2 separate regions of the Homo sapiens genome follow, and region 2 is linked to region 1. The links come from fine-mapping of genetic effects on gene expression. A gene starts in region 1. The other region holds a variant in brackets. All regions are shown on one strand. Distances are between the middles of the regions. Region 1 holds the start of CHURC1 (churchill domain containing 1). Region 2 overlaps CHURC1-FNTB (CHURC1-FNTB readthrough).

Region 1 (10,445 bases):
GCAATGCCTGTTTTTTTTCTAAGACAAACCAAAGGTAATTTTCTCAAGTTTCTGCTGCCTTCTTTAGCAGAATTTGATGGAGGGTCTTTTATACATTTGTAATAGATAAAAAATAAACCAGACTGCAAATCATTTTTAAAATCCTAAACCACGTACCAAGTTTCTTATTCAAATTGTACAGGGTAAGTTTAAACTTAAATTGCATTCTATTAGCCAATATGACTGTACTTCTGTAAGCATAGTTATGTTGAAATAAAGTTTTAAAAAGCAAAAAATAAATAAATGTGCTTGAAAGGCTTGAGTTTATCATCTGAATAGGGGAAGTAGCCTGAAGTTGGGCAGGAGAACCCTAAAGGGAAGAAAGTCTAACTCTCCCATTGAGCTAAGAAAAAAACCTGCTGACCCTGAACTTCTAGGAGTGCTTTTGTACCTGTCCTCAGCCAGGCTCACCTGTATTCACTGGGTTAACCCAGAAATGCTGCTAATTCATTCATATCAGGCAGGTGACATCAGGTGATGACAACCACAGACTCTTATTTCACACTTTCCCTGAAACAATGGAAAGAATGACCTATACCTTCACCAAGCAGATGAGCTTCCTCTACTCCATCTGTGAAATGGGTCTGAGGATACTACCATAAAGGCTGGGGCACTTATTTGCTCCTTTCAACAAAAGATGAAAATAATAGATATGATCAGCATTGTGTCATCACTTCAGACTCTTGGCTTAAGACAGCATAAGACAAAAGAAAAAATAGAAAGAAGGTGTTAAAAGGAGAGTCAAACTGCACTCTTTAGGGAAAATTTTCATCTTACCACAGGGATGTAGTTTAGCACATGTAACTGAGCCAGCAATTAGGGCCATTTTAACATTTAGATTTTCTTTAATCAATTCCTTTTACAAGAGGTGATCTCATACGTAAACTGCAACATGGTTTGTTTGATATATCTCATGGACATCACATATTTATTAGAGACCCATAGGGGCAGGGTATTTCCCCAGAGAAAATTCTATTAGAAGATAAAATTGATTTTGCAAATTTTATTTTATATAGTTACCTATAAGAGAAAATATTTTTCTGTTTATTGTTTTTCTTATGTTACATCACTACTTGTTCATTTCATTCAGGTGCTAATCTTCTGCTTTGTAGCCTCTATTTTCCTTTCTCCCATCTGTCAACCTCAGATACTTTTATATTCCCATTACCACAGTCACACTTTAATTTCTGGTCCTGGCTACCTCTTCCCCCAAGTCTCATTTCCTGCCTCTCTTCTCTGAATGTGGCTAGATTTAAATGGAGGACTTCATTGGATAGATAGCCCTGAGCTCTTGAGCTTTTGTGACCATAAATATGACAACTTTTTTTTTTTTTTTTTGAGATGGAGTCTAGCTCTGTCGCCCAGGCTGGAGTGCAATGGCACGATCTCGGCTCACTGCAACCTCTGACTCCCAGGTTCAAGCGTTGCTCCTGCCTCAGCCTCCTGAGTAGCTGGGATTACAGGCATGCGCCACCATGCCCAGCTAATTTTTGTATTTTTAGTGGAGACAGGGTTTCACCATGTTAGCCAGGAGGGTCTCGATCTCCTGACATCATGATCCACCCGCCTCAGCCTCCCAAAGTGCTGGGATTACAAGCATGAGCCACCATACCCGGCCGACCTTTTTTTTTTTTTATCTTGCTCATTTTAATAACAAGTTATGATATAACTCTGGGAAGGTAAAAAAATTTCATAAATATGTAGATTGTCTTTCATGCCTTAGAATATGAAATCAATTCATGCTAATGGGTGTACTCTTTAAGATCTATGACTTTAGTGTAATTTTTAATTAATTTATTTTTGTTGTGTATATTCTCAGTGATGAGGCAGAAAGCTATACATCTCCCCCTTGTGGTTCCTGCTAACGTCTGCCTTTGGCATGTCCATTTTTTTCCCAGTTCCAGTAAGTCCCAATAAAATGCAGCTAAAATAATCTTTTTTATTTATTTATTTTTTAGGGACAGAGTCTCACTCTGTTGCCCAGGCGGGGGTGCAAGCAGCATGATCATAGCTCATTACAGCCTCAAACTCCTAGGCTCAAGAGATCTTCCCATCTCAGCCTCCTGAGTAGCTAGGACTGCAGGTGCACACCACCACACTAGGCTAATTTAAAAATTTTTTGAGGTCATCACTATGTTGCCCAAGCTGGTCTTGAACTCCTGGCTTCAAGCTACCCTCCTGCCTTGGCGTCCCAAAAGTGCTGGGATTACAGGTGTGAGCCACCACACCCAGCCTAAAATAATTTTAAACCACAACTCTGGCAACACTCTCCTGCTCAAACCTTCAGTTGCTCCCTACCACATGCAGAATAAAATCCAAACTCCTTGGCATGGTTCACCTGAAATTTCTATACAAAACAAAACAAAACTCTGCTTTTTGAAATTCTAAACATGCTTTAAGGCCCAAATTCCTCTTTCCTAATCCTCCCCCTGGGTGTAGTCTCATCATTTTGTGTTCTTATACCCCAATCTGCCAGTAATTATTAGTATTTGTGCTCATTTTATCTCTCAGACTAAATTGTAGCTGGGGAGTAGCAAAGGATTAAAAGTCAGTATTAGGCTTTAAAAACAGAGAAACCATTTAAAAATGGATGAAGAGAAAGAATTGGGCCAGGTGCAGTGGCTCACACCTGTAATCCCAGCACTTTGGAAGGCCGAGGCAGGTGGATCACTTGAGACCAGGAGTTCGAGACCACCCTGGCCAACATGGTGAAACCTCATCTCTACTAAAACTACAAAAAATTAGCCGGTTGTGGTGGTGTGCCCCGGTAGTCCCAGCTACTTGGGAGGCTGAGGCATGAGAATCGCTTGAACCTGGGAGGCAGAGGTTGCAGTGAGCCGAGACTATGCCAGTGCACTCCAGCCGAGGTGACACAGTGAGACTGCCTTAAAAGAGAGAGAGAGAAGAAAAAAAGACTAGCCCTGTCCAATAGGAATATGAGAGCTACATGTGTAATTTTTAATTTTCTAGTAGTCACATTAAAAAAGCAGGTGAAATTAATTTAATAATACATTTTTATTTAACCCAGTACGTCAAAAATTATTTCAACGTAATCATATAAATTTATTAATGAGATTCTTATATATTTTAATACTAAATCTTCCAAATCTGGTGTGCAGAATGTACTCACAGCACAATCTCAGTTCAACTTGCCATATTTAAAGTGCTTTATAGCCATAAGTGGCTAGTGCTACTGTATTAGAAAGAAATTGAGATAAGGATAGCAACAGAGTCCTAGCCCTGGCTGACTACTGAGTAGCTTTGTTACCATAGACAAGACCTTTAACCACTCACTTCTGTGGTTTCCTTATCTGAAAAGAGGAGACATATTTTTCTTACCAACCACATAGGATTGTAATAGCATAAAATTAGAAACTGAAATGAGGACACTTTTGAAAGGTTGAAAATGTCATACAAATGGGAGGTATTATAATTATTCTAAGAATAAGGTAAACTCTGATGGCTCTAGTTCTTGCAGTGTTTCTTAGCACACCTATGATTTTTAATAACAGTTGCAGATACTTACTAGAAGTTGAAATACTAAAGGTTACAACTTCAGTGCTTCCGTGGAAAAATAATTCCCATATTAGCAAACCCATTTAAACTGGTGTGCTTTGAAATGGTTATTAATCTCTTCTTTAAGGAATCTGGATCCCAGAGTCTCCCAGGCTCCCCAATCTTTCTTCCCTGACATGACAGCAATAAAGCAGGGCTGAGGGAGGATGTTGATGTTCCCATTGGGGTAGAGGAGTGTGATAAAGACGCATTGTTCAGAAACAGAGACAAACTTCGGAGATTCGTCTGCAAGTTAATTAGGTCGTTGCGAATAAATAAGATGCTTTCAATACAGAGAGAAAGGATGAGGCGGGGCAACAAGCACAAGCATTTTGAGACCCACAGGATTGGGAAATGATGCAGGAACAACTGACCTGGCCATTTTTCTTTCTTTCTTTCTTTTCTTGGAAGCACATATGTTTATTGGTTTTTTAATCTGTGAACCAATAGGTCATTTATAAATGGATGTGCAAATCTGAAATCAAAATATCTGCAGTCAATTCAATTAGATAATTTTTGAAATCTATTTATTTTTAATATACTTTAAGTTCTAGGGTACATGTGCACAACGTGCAGATTTGTTACCTATGTATAGATATGCCATGTTGGTGTGCTGCACACATTAACTCGTCATTTACATTAAGTATATCTCCTAATGCTATCCCTCCCCCCTCCCCCCACCCCACGACAGGCCCCGGTGTGTGGTGTTCCCCACCCTGTGTCCAAGTGTTCTCATTGTTCAATTCCCACCTATGAGTGAGAACATGCGGTGTTTGGTTTTCTGTCCTTGCGATAGTTTGCTCAGAATGACGGTTTCCAGCTTCATCCGTGTCCCTACAAAGGACATGAACTCATCCTTTTTTATGGCTGCATAGTATTCCATGGTATATATGTGCCACATTTTCTTAATCCAGTCTATCATTGATGGACATTTGCATTGGTTCCAAGTCTTTGGTATTCTGAATAGTGCCACAATAAACATACATGTGCATGTGTCTTTATAGCAGCATGATTTATAATCCTTTGGGTATATACCCAGTAATGGGATGGCTGATGACCTGGCCATTTTTCTATTTACATAGTGCTTGCCCGCCACTGAGGTGCTTCTGTGACACCTGAGAGAGATAGAAATACGTTCCTCGTTGCTATGTCCTCCAGAGGACTCTGGAATGACCAATTATTACTAATATTTTAAGTGTTTTTTTAGGAGATTTTCTGCAGCACTCTGAGTGTCTCTTCCCAAACACTTCGGTTACTGTTTATTCACCTGCTGAGATCTGGTCTCTTATTCACTCTCATTGCCTTAAGAAATGGTACAGAAATGTATTCATTAACATTTCAGATTTGTATATGCGGTAGCGAGAAATAATTCCCTTTCTTGTGTGTCGTGATTTGCCTTTCTTGTCAGCCTAAGCTCAGGAAGGTGTCTGTGAGAACTTCGCTCAGCCCAAGATCCCTTTCCCTTCCCGTCACATCTGTTAGCGCACAAGATTTCTTCGTCTGTCTCCAAAGGTTTCTGAAGCCCCACCCTTTGCCCACGCACGGTGCCAAGGAGACTGTGCCCTGCCTTGACAACAGTTGCTAAGGGGCGGAGACTTCGGCTCGGTTCCCGAGACGGAATACCCAGGAGTCGAGTACTTGGGCGCATGCGGCAACCGTATCTCAGTTCTCGCGAGGTTTCGTCTTCCCGGAAGCGTTGGAGGACATTCCCTGTTGACTGCGTCGCGATGTGTGGCGACTGTGTGGAGAAGGAATATCCCAACCGGGTGAGCGACTGGGCGCTCCCTTGGCCCGCGGGCGGCCCCCGAGGTGTCTCATATCCAAGGCTGGCCTTCCCAGAGAGGCCGTACGTGGGGCGGACTCGGCCGCACTGCCGGTCCCGGTGACCCAGTAGCGGTATTTAGGCACACCAGGGATGGCCTGTGGCGGTCTGCACCTCTGGTACCCGCCCTGGCGGCTGACCTCAGTTGTAGTGGCCGTTCTCTTGAGCTCCAAGGAGCAACAGAGGAACCCCACCACCACCACAACCCCCGTCGACAACCGAGGGACTCCCCCACCCCCACTTCCGGTCTCATCCTCAAGCTCGATTTGATGAAGTACAATTTTCTTACCGAATTCTAGCGCTGGAGGGGACCTCTGTGGTCATCTGTTCTAACACTTTTGCAGATGAAGAAACCGATGCCCAGAGAGGGGAAATCACTTGCCCAAGTTCACATTCTAGTTGCATGGATGAGAGCCAGGACTAGAATTTAGGTTTCCTGCCTGTTACCGCCTTCTGAATCTCAGTTACTTTCAGGTTCAGGAGTTTGCAAAGCTTGTCTATTCTCATTCATTCAAGGCATCCTTGTTGAACATTTATATATGTGTAGTTAGATTACTTTGCTAGGCCAGAAAGGGATTATTTCTCCTCTCTTTGAGACAGGGTGCTGCTGTTGCCCAGGCTGGTCTCAAATTCCTGGGATCAAGTGATCCTCCCGCCTTGGCCTCCGAAAGTGCTGGGATTACTGGCATGAGCCACCACGTCCAGCTGGATTATTTGTTTCAGAGAAGAAATTAAAAGGCACCTTTGGTGCTGCCTAACAGCTTACAGTTTTGGGGAGTATGTGACTAACAAAAAATGAGTAGCTCAGTTCAGAAATGCTATTCAAGTTTAGGGAAAGGGGAGGGCAATAGGGGATAGTGCTGTTCTCCCCTGAGAAAAGGTGGACATCATCTAAGACTTGAAGGACAGTTGTAATTAGGGTAGAAAAGAAGGTGAGGAGCTGGAGGATGGGGGAAAATTACAGAAATGGAATTTGTGCATTGGTTGGGAAGGAGGGAGAAAGTCTCTGTAGTTCCTTATGTCTTAGTATCTTATGGGTAATACTTAGGCTTTTGAGTAGCATGTATAACAGTATGAATTCTCCTGTAGTACAACTACTTTGAAAAAGCGGGTGAGCCTTATAAAATACAGACATGACCCAGTGATTCCCATTCTAGAAAAATGCATGTGTATATGCTTCTGAAGACTTTTATAAATAAGTGTTCATAACAGCATTATTTTTGTAGTAGATTGGAAAAGTAACTGATACATTCATTAGAATGGAACACCATTAATGAATGAGGAATGGAAGTGAATGAATTAGAGCAGTAGTTCTCTACCAGGAGTGATTTTTGGCTCTTAGGAGACATTTGGCAATATCCAGAGACATTTTTTGGGTGTCAAAAGGGGAAGTACTACTGACTGCTAATGGGTGATGCAAGGGATGCCGCTAAACATCCAGCAATACATGGGACAGCCACCACAACAAAGTATCACTCCCAATGTCAATAGTGTGGAGGTAGAGAAACCCTGAATTATAGCCGTGAAACCAAACTAGAATTACACAGCAGCCTGAAAAGTCTTACAAATAGTGTTGATGAAAGAACACATAAAGTATAATTCAAAAAGAGGCAAACCAAAATATATTATTCAAGGATGTACCTGGGTGGTAAAACTGTAAGGAACGTATACAATTACTGTTAAGTCGAGATAGTGGTTACTCCTAAGGGATTAGGGTGTGATCAAGAAGGGTCACATGAGAAAAAGTCTTCCCGGGTGCAAGCAGTGTTTTATTTCTTGATTTGGGTGGTGGTTCTACAGATGTACACTTTATAATCATTTCTTGTTCGCTACATTTATGTTTCATGTACTTTACTATGTACTATTTCATTTTTTTAAAGTTTAAAAAGATTTTTATGAAACCAGTAATAAACATGAGCTATTATGAGACCATGAGGGAGGAGTTTGCAGTAGAGAATATTAAAGAGATTAGGTTGGATTCTTTTTTGTTGTTGTTTTTGTTTTTGAGATGGAGTCTTGCTCTGTCGCCCAGGTTGGAGTGCAGTGGCATGATCTCGGCTCACTGCAAGCTCCGCCTCACTGGTTCATGCCATTCTCCTGCCTCAGCCTCCCGAGTAGCTCGGACTGCAGGTGCCCACCACCATGCCCAGCTAATTTTTTTGTATTTTTAGTAGAGACAGGGTTTCGCCTTGTTAGCCAGGATGGTCTCGATCTCCTGACCTCGTGATCCACCTGCCTCGGCCTCCCAAAGTGCTAGGATTACAGGCGTGAGCCACCGCGCCGGGCCTTAGGTTGGATTCTTAAGAGTGGAGTTATTGTAAAACTTAAAAGTCATATTGAGAAGTTTAGAGTTTACATTTTAGGCATTGGGCCACCATCAAAATTTTAATAGAGAAATGATTCTGAAATCTGTTATTTAGGAAAATGAATCTTATGGCTGAATGTTGAAATGGTGGGGTAGAGGGTGTGTAAAGACAGAACTCCACAGGGCATTTGAGGAGCCATGGCAACAGTGGTGTAGGCATGAGATAATGAAGACCTTATTTCAAAGAAAGAATTAGGTTGGGCACGGTTCTCACACCTGTAATCCCAGCACTTTGGGAGGCCAAGGCAGGTGGATCACTTGAGCCCAGGAGTTTGAGACCAGTCTCAAACATGGCAAAACCCTGTCTCTACAAAAAATACAAATAGTCTGGGCACGGTGGCTCACGCCTATAATCCCAGCACTTTGGGAGGCCAAGGCTGGCAGATCACCTGAGGTCAGGAGTTCGAGACCAGCTTGGCCAACATGGCGAAACCCCGTCTCTACTAAAAATACAAAAATTAGCTGGGTGTGGTGGGAGGCGCCTGTAATCCCAGCTACTTGGGAGGCTGAGGCGGTAGAATCGCTTGAACCTGGGAGGCAGAGGTTGCAGTGAGCCGAGATCACACCACTGCTCTCCACCATGGGTGACAAGAGCAAAACTCCGTCTCAAAACAAATAAACAAACAAAAAAAAACCACCACAAATATTAGCCAAGCGTGGTGGCATGCACCTGTAGTCCTAGCTACTTGGAGGTTGAGGTGGGAGGTTGCAGTGAGCCATGATCGTGCCATTGCACTCCAGCCTGGGCAACAGAGCGAGACCCTGTTGAAAAAAAAAAGAATTAACAAGATTCAACCTGTTTAATGTAGAAGTGAATAAGGGGAGACCTATACATGATCACATGATCTCAGGATTTTCAATCTAGGCAACTGGGATGTTGGAAGTATCATTACAGAAATTGGAGGCATATGGGAAGAAAAAACAAAATTGGGGACAAATGGTCAAATTGTTATTAATATCATGCTTCACCTGAGGTTGAGAATATCCGAAGGGTCAAGTGAAGATATAAGACTGCAGTTTGGGTACAACTATGTAGATAGATGAGTCAGTCAAATACAAGTGTCAAAATAGGATTTGTTCTCTGAGGAAAAAAATGTAGAGAATCAAGGACTGAGCTCCAAAGACTAAATTAACTTCAGAAATGAAAATAAAGTATAAGGAAGAATAGTAGAAAAAGGGATCGAGGTGATTGGAAAACCAGGAGAGTGCCTTTCAAAGGCACTTTTCTCTGATTTTATTCTGTTCTAAAATAATTAAAAGACTGTCATGAAGAAGAATTAAACTTTTCTTTGGAATTTTAGAAGGCAGATTTAGAAATAATTAGTGGGTGGATGTTACGGGTCTTAGACTTTGAATCAGAATAAAGAACATTCTGACATTTCAAAATGGAATGAGTAACTCTTAAAGGAATTAAGCTCTCTTCCTATTGTTCAGTAGAGACTAACTGACCATTTGGAATGTCAAGGATCCTTCCAACTCTGGGGTTCTTTGAAGTCATGACCTATTTTTAAGTGCAGTAAGAGCAGAAGCCCACTGCTTTGCTCAGCTTTGCAGAAGCTTAGCAAAGGGAAGGGTAATAAGAAGATGGTGGGCCGGGCCTAGTGGCTCACACGTGTAATCCTAACACTTTGGGAAGCCGAGGCACAAGGATGGCTTGAACCCAGGAGTTTGAGACCAGCCTGGGCTACATAGTGAGACCCCATCCTTATTAAAAATTAAAAAACATTAGCCAGGCGTGGTGGTGTGTGCCTATAGTTCCACCTACTTGGGAAGAGGCTAAGGCAGGAGGATTCCCTCAACCCAGGAGTTCGAGGCTCCAGTGAGCTAAGATCACACCACTGCACTCCAGCCTGAGCAACAGAGCAAAACCCTGTCTACTTAAAAAAACAAACAAACAAAAAATCATTTGTTGGGAAGCTCTAAGTGTAGAATGAGTAAGTAATAGTTAATTATTTATCTTCGATTACATAAAGTTGTTTGGAGTTTTGTCATTTATTTTTACAGACTAGAAATATATAGTACTGAATTCTTAATGGGGCTCTGGCCTACTTGCTTATACTGTTAACACTGAGAATTTGAATTCAAACATGAGTCAAGTTGGAATGAACCATACTAATTTTCTGAACCCAAATGTTTTTTAACTCAATGGTGAACCACATTTTTTTTTTCCTTCAGAAAAGCATTTAGCAAACCAGTCAGAACTAGAACTCTACTACATTTTCTAAAATTACTGAACAGGCACAAAATTGTAATCAAATATTTTTCATATCAAACTGGAAATGAAACATTTCATATATTTTAATTTCAGCTTGAAATTTTGTTAGTAATGCAACAGGAATACAGAAATACATTATGAATCAGTGGGAAAAAATCAATGTTAGTGATATGTTTAAAATTACTTGTTTTGTATTTGTCATTTAAAGCTAAGCTACCAAACTTCATATATTCAAGTTGTTGCTTAGTAGATAACATTGAACCAGATTTAATTAAATGCTGAGTAATATATAATTAGCAAAACAGTTGTATGTAAGAGTGCCTTAAAATGATACTCTGCATCTTAAAATTTATAGTTATAAGTGCCTATATTTAAAAAGTATACTTTTCAATCAATTACCTAACCTTCCACTTAAGACAATGGAAAAATGGGCCAGGTATGGTGGCTCA
Region 2 (9,719 bases), 39 kb after region 1:
TCTGCCAGTGCCAACTCATTGCTGGCACGCATCCGGAGGCCTTCCAGCTCCTTCCTATGGGCCTGCAGCACCAGCTCTGTCAGACGCGTGAATGACTGGAAACCAAAGGGCACAGGTTAGTCCAGTGTCTCCTCCTCTCCCCTGGCAACCCTGCAGCGGCCTGAGGGATAAGGTCCATCTTATGGCTCCTCCTCCCACCTCTGCTGGACTCAGCCCGAGAGAGCGGGCGCCTGGTCACCAGGGCTCTCACCTCTTTAATGTTGAGGTTGGTGCAGGCACTTGTTTCATAGAAGTCCATGCCATACTCCTTCGCCAGCTGCAAGAGAAGGACATTTCTGAAAGAGAGTCAGTAAGGCAGGGGAGGGGCCCATACAACCAGGCACAGGCTTCTGCCACTGCACTCACAACCATGCTGTGTTGTGACGATTTCTCAGAGTAGATAATTTCTCAGATGGGACTGGGAGCTCCAAGAGAGGGTAGCAGAGAATGGGGGAAGATCCTCCACAAATATGCCTCTCCATTCTTCCAGCTGCCACCCCACGCCTCCCAACACACAATCATATATCAGGAGATAAAGACACCATCCATTGTGGCAGTATGGCATCCTCGTAAAAAACATGGGCTCTGGAGTCCCACAGTCCCAGACCTGAATAGCAGCACTGCCACTGATGGCTAGCTGTGTGACCTTGGACAAGTTGTACATTCTCTGTAAGCCCCAGCTTTATCTTCTGTTAAAGGAGACTGAGTGTGTCTCCCATCCATGGTTGTGGGATGATTCAGTGGGGTCGTGCACTTAAAAGCGCTTGCCTTAGCACAGTGCCACACATAGAGTGCTCAATAAATACTATCCTAGTAGGCTTTGCCTCTACTTTCAAATTGGTCAATGACCATGTCTTATATTTTATACCAAACAATCAATTTCATTTTAAGTACTAATGGAACGCTATTGACTGAAAAGGGAGAGGAAAACTCTTGAGGTCCACGGACTGAGTGGATAACTTATCTCAGAAATACCAATCTTGGCTGGGCACAGTGGCTCACGCCTGTAATCCCAGCACTTTGGGAGACTGAGGCAGGTGGATCACCTGAGGTTAGGAGTTCGAGACCGGCCTGGCCAATATGGCAAAACCCCATCTCTACTAAAAATACAAAAAAATTAGCCAGGCGTGGTGGCATGCACCTGTAATCTCAGCTACTTGGGAGGCTGAGGCAGAAGAATTGCTTGAACTCAGGAGGCAGAGGTTGCAGTGAGCCGAGATGGCGCCACTGCACTCTAGCCTGGGTGACAGAGCGAGACTCCATCTCAAAAAAAAAAAAAAAAAGAAAGAAAGAAAAAAAAAATAACCAATATTTCTTTCTGCTCTCTGGGAGGATGGTCTCCCTGCATGCTTGGACATTCCCTCAGCGTCATCCTCCTACCCTTTCTGCCCCCATGGCTTCTCCAGCTGTGGCTCTTTGTCTCCTCATTTGCCTCCCTGGCTCTTTCCTGGGTAAGAAGGACAGGAGTGGGGGAGTGTTGGGTGGGATGGGAGATCATTTCTCGACCGTAACATGGCAGCTAGGCCTGGATGCTGTCAGAGAAGAGGTTGACAACTTGAAGTCCTTCATTACTAACACGGGGATGATCTCTTAAGCAGAGGGCAATCCTGCATTTGGGGACCTGGACTTGGGAGAGTTGCTGCCTATGACGTCTTTGTTTCTGGATGGACCCCGAATCTCTGGGCTTCTGTCCTGAAACCCAGACAACAAGCCTTCCGAGGATGGCCACTCCCCCAGGGCCTTGGGGTGCTGGGGACGTGTGGGAGGACCTGCCACTGGGGAACACACCCCTAGGTCCCCACGCTCAGGACTGGCCCTGGAGGCCCAGCAGAGGACCTGGGGTGGACTTGCCTTTTCCCTCCACTTACCTGCTGCCCTTGCTCTCTTCCCACCTGCCGTTTCTGCTCCTCATCAGCCTTATTCCCAATAAGGATCTTCTGGACGCCTTCTGGTGCGTACTAGGGACAAAGGATGGGCAGAACAGCCAGTGAGTGCTGCCTGCCCCCCCAATTTTCCCTACAGAGTCTGCACTGCCTCCAGCCCACCACCAATTCCAGAGCCCTAGGGACAGGGTGGGCCGACTGGATGCAGGTGCCAGGCTCCCCCAAGTGCCATGGCTGACCTCAAGGGTATCACGGGGAGAGCTTAGGGTAGAAGACACTCTGGCTAAGACTGGTGCTTCCTTGGGTTAGACCACTGGTATCAGAGCTGGAAAGGACATTGGATGTAAGTCCAGCCCTCATTCTACAGGAACTGGGGACCCAGAGGATTCAAATGGCTTCCCAAGGCTCCACAGCTATTGTGCAGAGCCAGGACTAGATCCCAATCTTGCAACTCCACCTGGTCCCAAGATTTCAGGAAAGAAGCTGCTCACAGGGAAGACTTGGAACTAATTCATTTCCGGGAAAGACACAGCCGTGGAGGCCTGGCAGGGTATAGAGAGTGAGGGCATGGCAGCTTCGGTTTCTTCCCCATGTCTTACTCACCCAGAGGTCTTCATCCAGGGCTGTGGAAGGCAAAGCTTCCTGGAAGCATTTGCCTTCCCATCTGGCCCTCGCCTTGCCTTCCCCGGTGAGGCACCCTCTCCACACCCCGGCAGTGAGGTGGCATCTCCTACCTCATCCACGTCACTGACCCACTTCATGATGTGCTGGTAAGAGCGCTCGCTGCTAATGTCATAGACCAAAAATATCCCCTGAGAGAGAGAGAAATAGAGAGATGTGATATGCACAGAGAGAGTGCAGTCATGGGGCCAGAAGGGGCCGTGGAAACTTAAAGGTTGGGTCCCACTCTCCCATTCTCCCTGCTCAGCATCCAGAAATATCTCTTCTCTCAGACCCCACCACTGCCGCCTCCCAGGCCCATCACAGAACTCTCTACAGCAGGAAGACACCACATGCTTTGACCTGGATCTTTGACCCAGGATGGAGGGTGGAAGTCAGGGGTGAGGGCAGGGGCCTGCCTGCAGTGAGTGGGCCATGAACAATGGACGGACAAATGATCAGTGAACAGCTGAAAGACGCCCTGCGCTCCTCCAAGCAGGCGAACTGTATTTAGGGGATCCGTGGCACAGACATCTCAAATACCCAGAGCTGGGAGTGTGGGTGGCAGCTTCCCACTTTGAAACCCCCAATGTGGTGGCTTACCTGGGCCCGCCGATAGTACTGCTTTGTGATGGTCTGGTATCTCTCCTGCCCTGCAGTGTCCCTGCAGGAGAAAGCCAGTCCCTCAGAGGAGCAGGGACCATGGGAACAGACGGGGAGGGGAAGAGCAGAGCTGTCCCCTTGTAGGAAAAACTGGGGAGCTAAAGGGTGAAAAACCAGGGATGCTTGGATCCCCACAGGGATCTGCAGTCAGAGGCCTGGTCATCTGTGCTGGTGCTGACCAGGCCTGCAGGGCCTTGGCCCCTCCTGCCAACTGCCCTCCTGGCAGAAACCAGAAGCCACAGCCAGAACAGGCCTTGGACAGCTCTCTGGAATCTGGCCACTGTGGCCAGATTTGGTTGGATGGGAGTTGGCAGGGGATGCTGCTACACCCCTAGTCCCTATGGGACCTCTGAAGGCAGTGCCCATACTGCTGTGGAATTGAGAGGGAGCTCTAAACCCTGGCAAAGGCAGTGCTTCCAAGACCTCAGGCAGAGAGCCACAGCAGCACCCTCTGCTACTGTGGAAACTTCATCATGCTATCCTGAGGAACTCTCTCAGGGTCTCGCCCTAAATGATGGGGGGTGTAGCCTCCTTCCTTCCAATCTTAACATAGTGTGGCACAGCCCAAGGGCAAAGCCTAATCCTGAGATAAATTCACAATGGTTAGTGTGCCAGTTCCTTCTAATTCCTGCCCTTTGGTGCTTGTAGTCAATCCCCTAAAGTTTCTTAGAGGTTGGAGATTAAGGCTTATAGGAAGAGATGGGCTTCTGAGACTTCGCTTCCATCCATCAGAGAGGTGGCCAGTTATCCCAGGTGAAGCCTAGGAATTTTACACATGGCAGGGGCAGCTAAGGAGCAGCCAGAAGTCCTCTTCTCCTACATCTGCCTCCTCCTCCTCCCCAGCTCACCAGATCTGTATCCGCACTTTGATGCCGTCTACCTCTATGGTCTTCATCTTAAAGTCAACACCTGAAGAAAGGAAGAAAGAAAGAAAGTTAGAAAGCGTACCCACGAGAAATGAACAGGAAAGGGCCAGGCAATCACACTTGAAAGGTTTCCTTTCAGTTTAATTTGGCAAAGGGATGAAGTAATGTAAAGGCCTTCTTTAAGCAGAAACTGACCTTAAGGAAGTATCTGAAGCTTTGAAAGGGGCTTTCCTCCCTCCCTGAGCTGAAAGTTGCCACAAGTAAAGGCCCTGGGGGACCCAGAGGAGGGAGAGTGAATCTGGGGAAATCTACTTCATCACTGCCTTACTCGACAGACTTAAAACATGTCTCGTTCTAGTCATGTGTGAAGTCTTCCTATTTATACTTCTGGAGAGAACGCTGTGTTTATCCTTCCTGAAATTCTAATCTCTAGGAATAGCAACCCACATTATTTGCCTGCTTTCTTCCCTCTCTCTCTTTGCCTTGTTAATAACCAGAAGGGGTCATAGTGCCAGACTGTGGAGAGAGAGGAGGGCTCTTCCAACCCATGATTGTACCTGAAGCCTCAGCACCCAGCCAAGGCTCACCAAAAAGAAGGCCTCATGCGTCTTGGTTGCTGACTCACTCATTCACCATAGGAGGCACTGTGGTTGACTAGAAGGAGCATGGGCTTTGGTGTCAGGCCTGAGCTTATCTCCTCCCTCT[G/A]GCCACTCATAGCTCATTGCTATAACATCAGGCACCTTGCTTCACTGAGCGTCCATTTCTGCCTCAGTAAATATCTTCATCAGGGACATTACCAGTATCTCAGAGGGTTGCTGAGGAGGCCGGATGAGATACAGCACCTGGCCCAATTGACTGCAGCTGTCATGAGCTAGTGCAGGGCCGGGTACATGCGGGTGCTTATGAGTGACTGTCATAGGACCAGATGAAGAGGCAGTGGCATGGCATGGCATGTCACTGCGGGAGGGAAAGGAAGCAAAGAGTTCCCACGCTTCTTCATCCAAGGGCTGGAGGAGCTAAGCTGCCACGAGACACAAGAAACCGAAGGGATTTGGCAAATGCGTGCAGGGCAGAAACATATTGGAGAAATCTGCAGCAAGAGAAGTCAGCACCACCAGCAGCAGCCAGCTTGACTCTGAGTGACAACAGAGAGATGAGGGAGGTTGTTTTGCTGACCATGCCTCTCCCCAACTCTAACTATACCCAGGCACTATGCCCAGGGATTCAAGAGCTACGTCTGGTGGGTTAATTAAGCTTACGTCTTTGTGTACTCCCTGGAGCAAGGTCAGGAGTGGGCATGATCAGCCACAGTTTTCAGATGGGAACATGGTAGAGTTCCGAACCGTCTGCCACCAGCTGCACTGCCCGGCCCAGAAGGCCTGAAGGCACCAGCATCCCCATCACCACTGCCACTCCACCTCCGCATCAGTTATTTGCCAAATGGGAGACATCTTCCCTTATCTGTGCTGTCCCCAGCTTTCTACAAAGGCAAACAAATTAAATTCTGTCTCTTCCTTCCCACCATCAAGACCAATCATCATTTAATTACAAGGGAAAAAAGATGCAGAACGGGCAACCTGAACTAAATCGATTTGGTCAGACGTGAATCATTTCTCGCCTGCCCAAGCTGATTCATATCCATTGAGCTGTACTTTTCCAAATGGGCAATGCCTGGCAGCCATTCTTCCATGTGTGCAGAGAAAGAGTGAAGAGAAGGAGGGAGGAAGGGAGGAAGGAGAGAAGCATCAGGCCTTGGGAAGCAGGAGTATGCTTATTTCTGCCTGGATCAACGGTTATCAGGCACCTGTTTCTCCCCAGTACCTGGCATAGAAGGGAATCAAGACATTCTTGTTTCATGATACAGCACCTTCTTCCAAGAAGAACGAGAAATTTTCTCCAATTTGTAATATACCTGGTTTATCCTCACACTAGCCTAGCAAACCTGGCCAAGGACAGTGCCTTGTGCAAAGCCATCACAAGGGGGACAGGAAGAGAGAAGGTTTTATTTCCTTTATCCCACAAACATTTATGGGAACTTCCTATGTGCCCTGCACAGTGCTCAGTGCAGACAGAGCAGTGAAAAAGACATGGCCCCTGCCCTCAGAGAGCCTAGTGGAAAGGAAACAAGGGCTCAGAGAGGTCAATGGCTAGCCAGGGTCAGCACAGCACGTGCAGAGATTCCAACACAGGTCCATCTATGCTGGAACCCACGCTGCCCCTTGCGCTGGTTCTTAGGGAAGCAAGAGGAGAGTCGTGTAGTTGGCTAGGCCTGGAAGCCCTAACTCTGCTTAGTTTCCTTTTTGCCTGTGGGTGCCTGAGAAGGACTTTGCTAGGAGAGGAACTTCCAATATTAAGGTGAATTTTTCCCTGTGAGAGAAGAGGGGATGGAGGGAGAGGTGAAAGCAGGCAACTGTCCCCAGAGACAGAACTGACAAGGAGACAGGGTACTCCACCGGAAGTGAGGCTGGGCAGTGACTCCTTCTCACCTCCTCCCTCACTTCTTAGCTATGTGGCGGGGGACTAAGGCTGAGGAATTCCGGGGCTCGCAGCACTCCCCGGCCTCACACACACCCCACCATCTTGCAACCTAGGTCTCACTGGCCACCTGGGAACATGTGTTTTATTCACCTTTTGGCTATTCATATGCATTCACATATGATGGAAGAAACAGAGTAAGTCTATGTCTTCTGAAGGATTTTCCTTCCTCCCTCCCCGCCCACACAACCTCTCTTAAATTTAAAAAAGGTTAACAGCCCAAGGATCTTCAAGAGGAATCTATTGCTTCTGCGCTCTGTTCCCACACAACCTGGGCCTTCAGCTGTGTCCACCTACCAGTCAAGCCCTGGCCCCAGTAACCCGTGCCCATCGTGGCTCCTTCCCTCTCCCTGCGTGGCTGTTGGTTTTTTCCACTGCTGAGCACTGCAGGACAAAGTCAACACACTGGCCTTATTGAGGCCTCTGCAGACGGATGCTTTCTCACCTTGGCCAGCCCTCGCAGCTGCTTAGCAAACTGTTTATTCACATGTGTGTTCACCTATCACTGTCCCCCCACTGAAGACTTCAGCTCCAGGGCACCCCCTCCCCACCCCTGTGCTCTCAGCAGGATACCTTCTCCACTGTTTTATGGCCCAGATGAATGCCTTTCCTCTGAAGCCACCTCCTTTCTTCAGATTTTCCTAAGTTCTCTCTGCCTTCCCTCAGGGAAGAGTCCTCTGTCCACATCTGGCCTCTTTTCGGTCATCAGCCCCACCTGGGTGCACACCCAGAGAGTCAGCCCTTTTTGTTGCATCTTTAGTATCCGTGAGAAGAAGAGATATTCTCCATCTATCTCTGCCTCCAGTGGTTTCACATTCCGGCTCCTCTAAGGTCATATTTCTCAAACTTCCAGGTGCATGAGAATCACGCGGGGATTGAGTTAAAATGCAGATTCTGATCTGGTAGGTGTAGGGCAAGGCCTGAGATGCTGCAGGAAGCTCCCAGGTGAAGATGACGCTACTGTCCACATATCGCCTGAGTAACAAGCTGTTCTCAAAGTGTGTCCCTGGACCCACAGCATCAGCATCACCTGGGACTTGTTAGAAATGCAAATTCTGGCCGCACGCGGTGGCTCACACCAGTAATCCCAAGACCTTGGGAGGCTGAGGTGAGTGGATCACCTGAGGTCAGGAGTTTGAGACCAGCCTGGCCAACATGGTGAAACCCCCGTCTCTACTAAAAATACAAACGTTAGCTAGTCATGGTGGCGGGCACCTGTAATCCCAGCTACTCAGGAGCGGGTCTGGGGTGTGGGGAGAATCGCTTTAACCCAGGAGGCAGAGGCTGCAGTGAGCTGAGATCATGCCACTGCACTCCAGTCTGGGCGACAGGGTGAGACTTCATCTCAAAAAAAAAAAAAAAGAAAAGAAAGGAAAAGAAAACGAAATGCAAATATGCAAATTCTTGGGCCTTACCTCAGACCTATAGAATCAGGCCCTCTAGGTATGGGGTCCCGCAATCAGTTTCAATAAGCTCTCACAGTGATTCTCACACATGCGTAAGTTTGAGAACGACATTAGGACAAAAGTTTTGCACCTGAAGTGTCAAGAGAGCGAGAGCACAAGAGTTCTCTGTTTCTCAAGGTGTGCTTTGCAGAGCTTCGGCTTTAGAATCACCTGGGGTGACTTAAAACAAAGACAAAAACAATGACCTTGACGTGCCTAGACCTACTGAATCATAATTTGAGGGTGAGGCCCAGAAATCTGTATTTTTAACAGCACTGTGGGTGATATTAGATAGAAGTAGTTTCAAGAGCTATATATGTCATGGAAGAAACATCCATTGGCCTGGAGTCAGAAAGACCTGGTCCAAGTCCTGGTTCTGGCACTTACTGTGTAACTTCAGGCAAGTCTCAACTTCTCCTAGCTTCAATTTTTTTTTTTTTTTGGGATGGAGTCTCACTCTGTTGCCAGGGATGGAGTGTAGTGGAGCAATCATAGCTCACTGCAGCCTCGATCCTCCAGGACTCAAGCAATCCTCCCAGCTCAGCCTCTGGGTAGGTAGCTGGGACTGCAAGTGTGCACCACCATGCCCAGCTAATTTTTTTTTTTTTTGTAGAGATGAGGTCTCCCTGTATTGCCTAGACTAGTCTTGAACTCCTGGGCTCCAGCGATCCTCCCGCCTCAGCTTCCCACAGTGCTGGGATTATAGGCATGAGCCTCCGCACCAGGCCGATTTTCTTAAGTGTAGAAGGAGAATACTGCTTCCCTCCTAAGGGCTGTGCTGGGATAAATTAAACGATGTATGTGAAGCACTGACAGCGTAGTCCTCTCACTCCTACCTTCCCTCTGCTGAATAAAGGCTTCCTGGGGAGTCAGGAAAACCAGCCCAGAGAACCCTGAAGTGGAAGGCATTACAGAGTCCTGGCCCCTACTAACCAGGTACCCTTGCCAGCCAAGGGACTAGAGCATCAGCAGCATCAGAGGTGTGTGAGAAATGCACATTCTCAGGACTCGCCCAGCCCTACTCACTCTTCTGCACAAGAAAGTTTCAGAACCACACCCAGGTGCATAGTGCTTGTCTTTACAGCATACCCCTGAGCTATGGAATCCCTCAGCTCTTATGCGGGTCCCATGAAGTAGGCAGGAGTAGGTATTATTGTGAGCCACAGGGAAGCCAATTCTCATGTTCCCACTGACTCATGTTCCCACATCCCACAGCTGAGCTGGACTGGAAAGCTGGTGTCTTAAAACCCACCCAGGGTATGCTTCACTCGGCCAGAGGCTTCCCAACCCTGGGAGGCTGAGGAATCTTACCACCTTTTCCCACATGCCCTGGCATACCCGATGCCTTTTCCCACACACCCTGGCATACCCGATGCCTTTTCCCACACGCCCTGGCATACCCGATGCCTTTTCCCGCACACCCTGGCATACCTGATGCCTTTTCTCTTTTTTCTTGACGGAGTCTTCCTCTGTCGCCCAGGCTGGAGTGCAGTGGCACGATCTCAGGTCACTGCAACCTCTGCCTCCTGGGTTCAAGCGATTCTCCTGCCTCAGCCTCCCAAGTAGCTGGGATTACAGGCACGTGCCACCACACCCAGCTAATTTTTTGTATTTTTAGTAGAGACGGG

What was found. PIP is the estimated chance that this variant, and not a neighbour inherited with it, causes the effect. A credible set is the group of variants that fine-mapping cannot tell apart.
Region 2: its variant is the best candidate, but not a certain one, in a credible set for the expression of CHURC1 in whole blood (INTERVAL, PIP 0.65).

The regions. Positions count from the first base shown.
Region 1 is chr14:64,909,175-64,919,619 of GRCh38, forward strand. CHURC1 (churchill domain containing 1) reads left to right here and starts at 5,281. Exons shown (of 4, transcript NM_001386928.1): 1 at 5,281-5,360. The coding sequence starts at 5,322. CHURC1-FNTB (CHURC1-FNTB readthrough) reads left to right here and starts at 5,187. Exons shown (of 14, transcript NM_001202559.1): 1 at 5,187-5,360. The coding sequence starts at 5,241. It also overlaps the pseudogene RPPH1-2P. RefSeq lists enhancers at 5,081-5,130, 5,281-5,550.
Region 2 is chr14:64,948,418-64,958,136 of GRCh38, forward strand. The region is part of intron 3 of CHURC1-FNTB (CHURC1-FNTB readthrough); the gene reads left to right. RAB15 (RAB15, member RAS oncogene family) reads right to left here. Exons shown (of 7, transcript NM_001308154.2): 2 at 4,094-4,154; 3 at 3,186-3,246; 4 at 2,657-2,734; 5 at 1,908-1,997; 6 at 251-316; 7 at 1-95. Among named protein-coding and RNA genes, the nearest start is that of GPX2, 11 kb to the left of the region's middle. RefSeq lists an enhancer at 6,476-7,353. The variant G/A (reference allele first, on the strand shown) is at 4,817.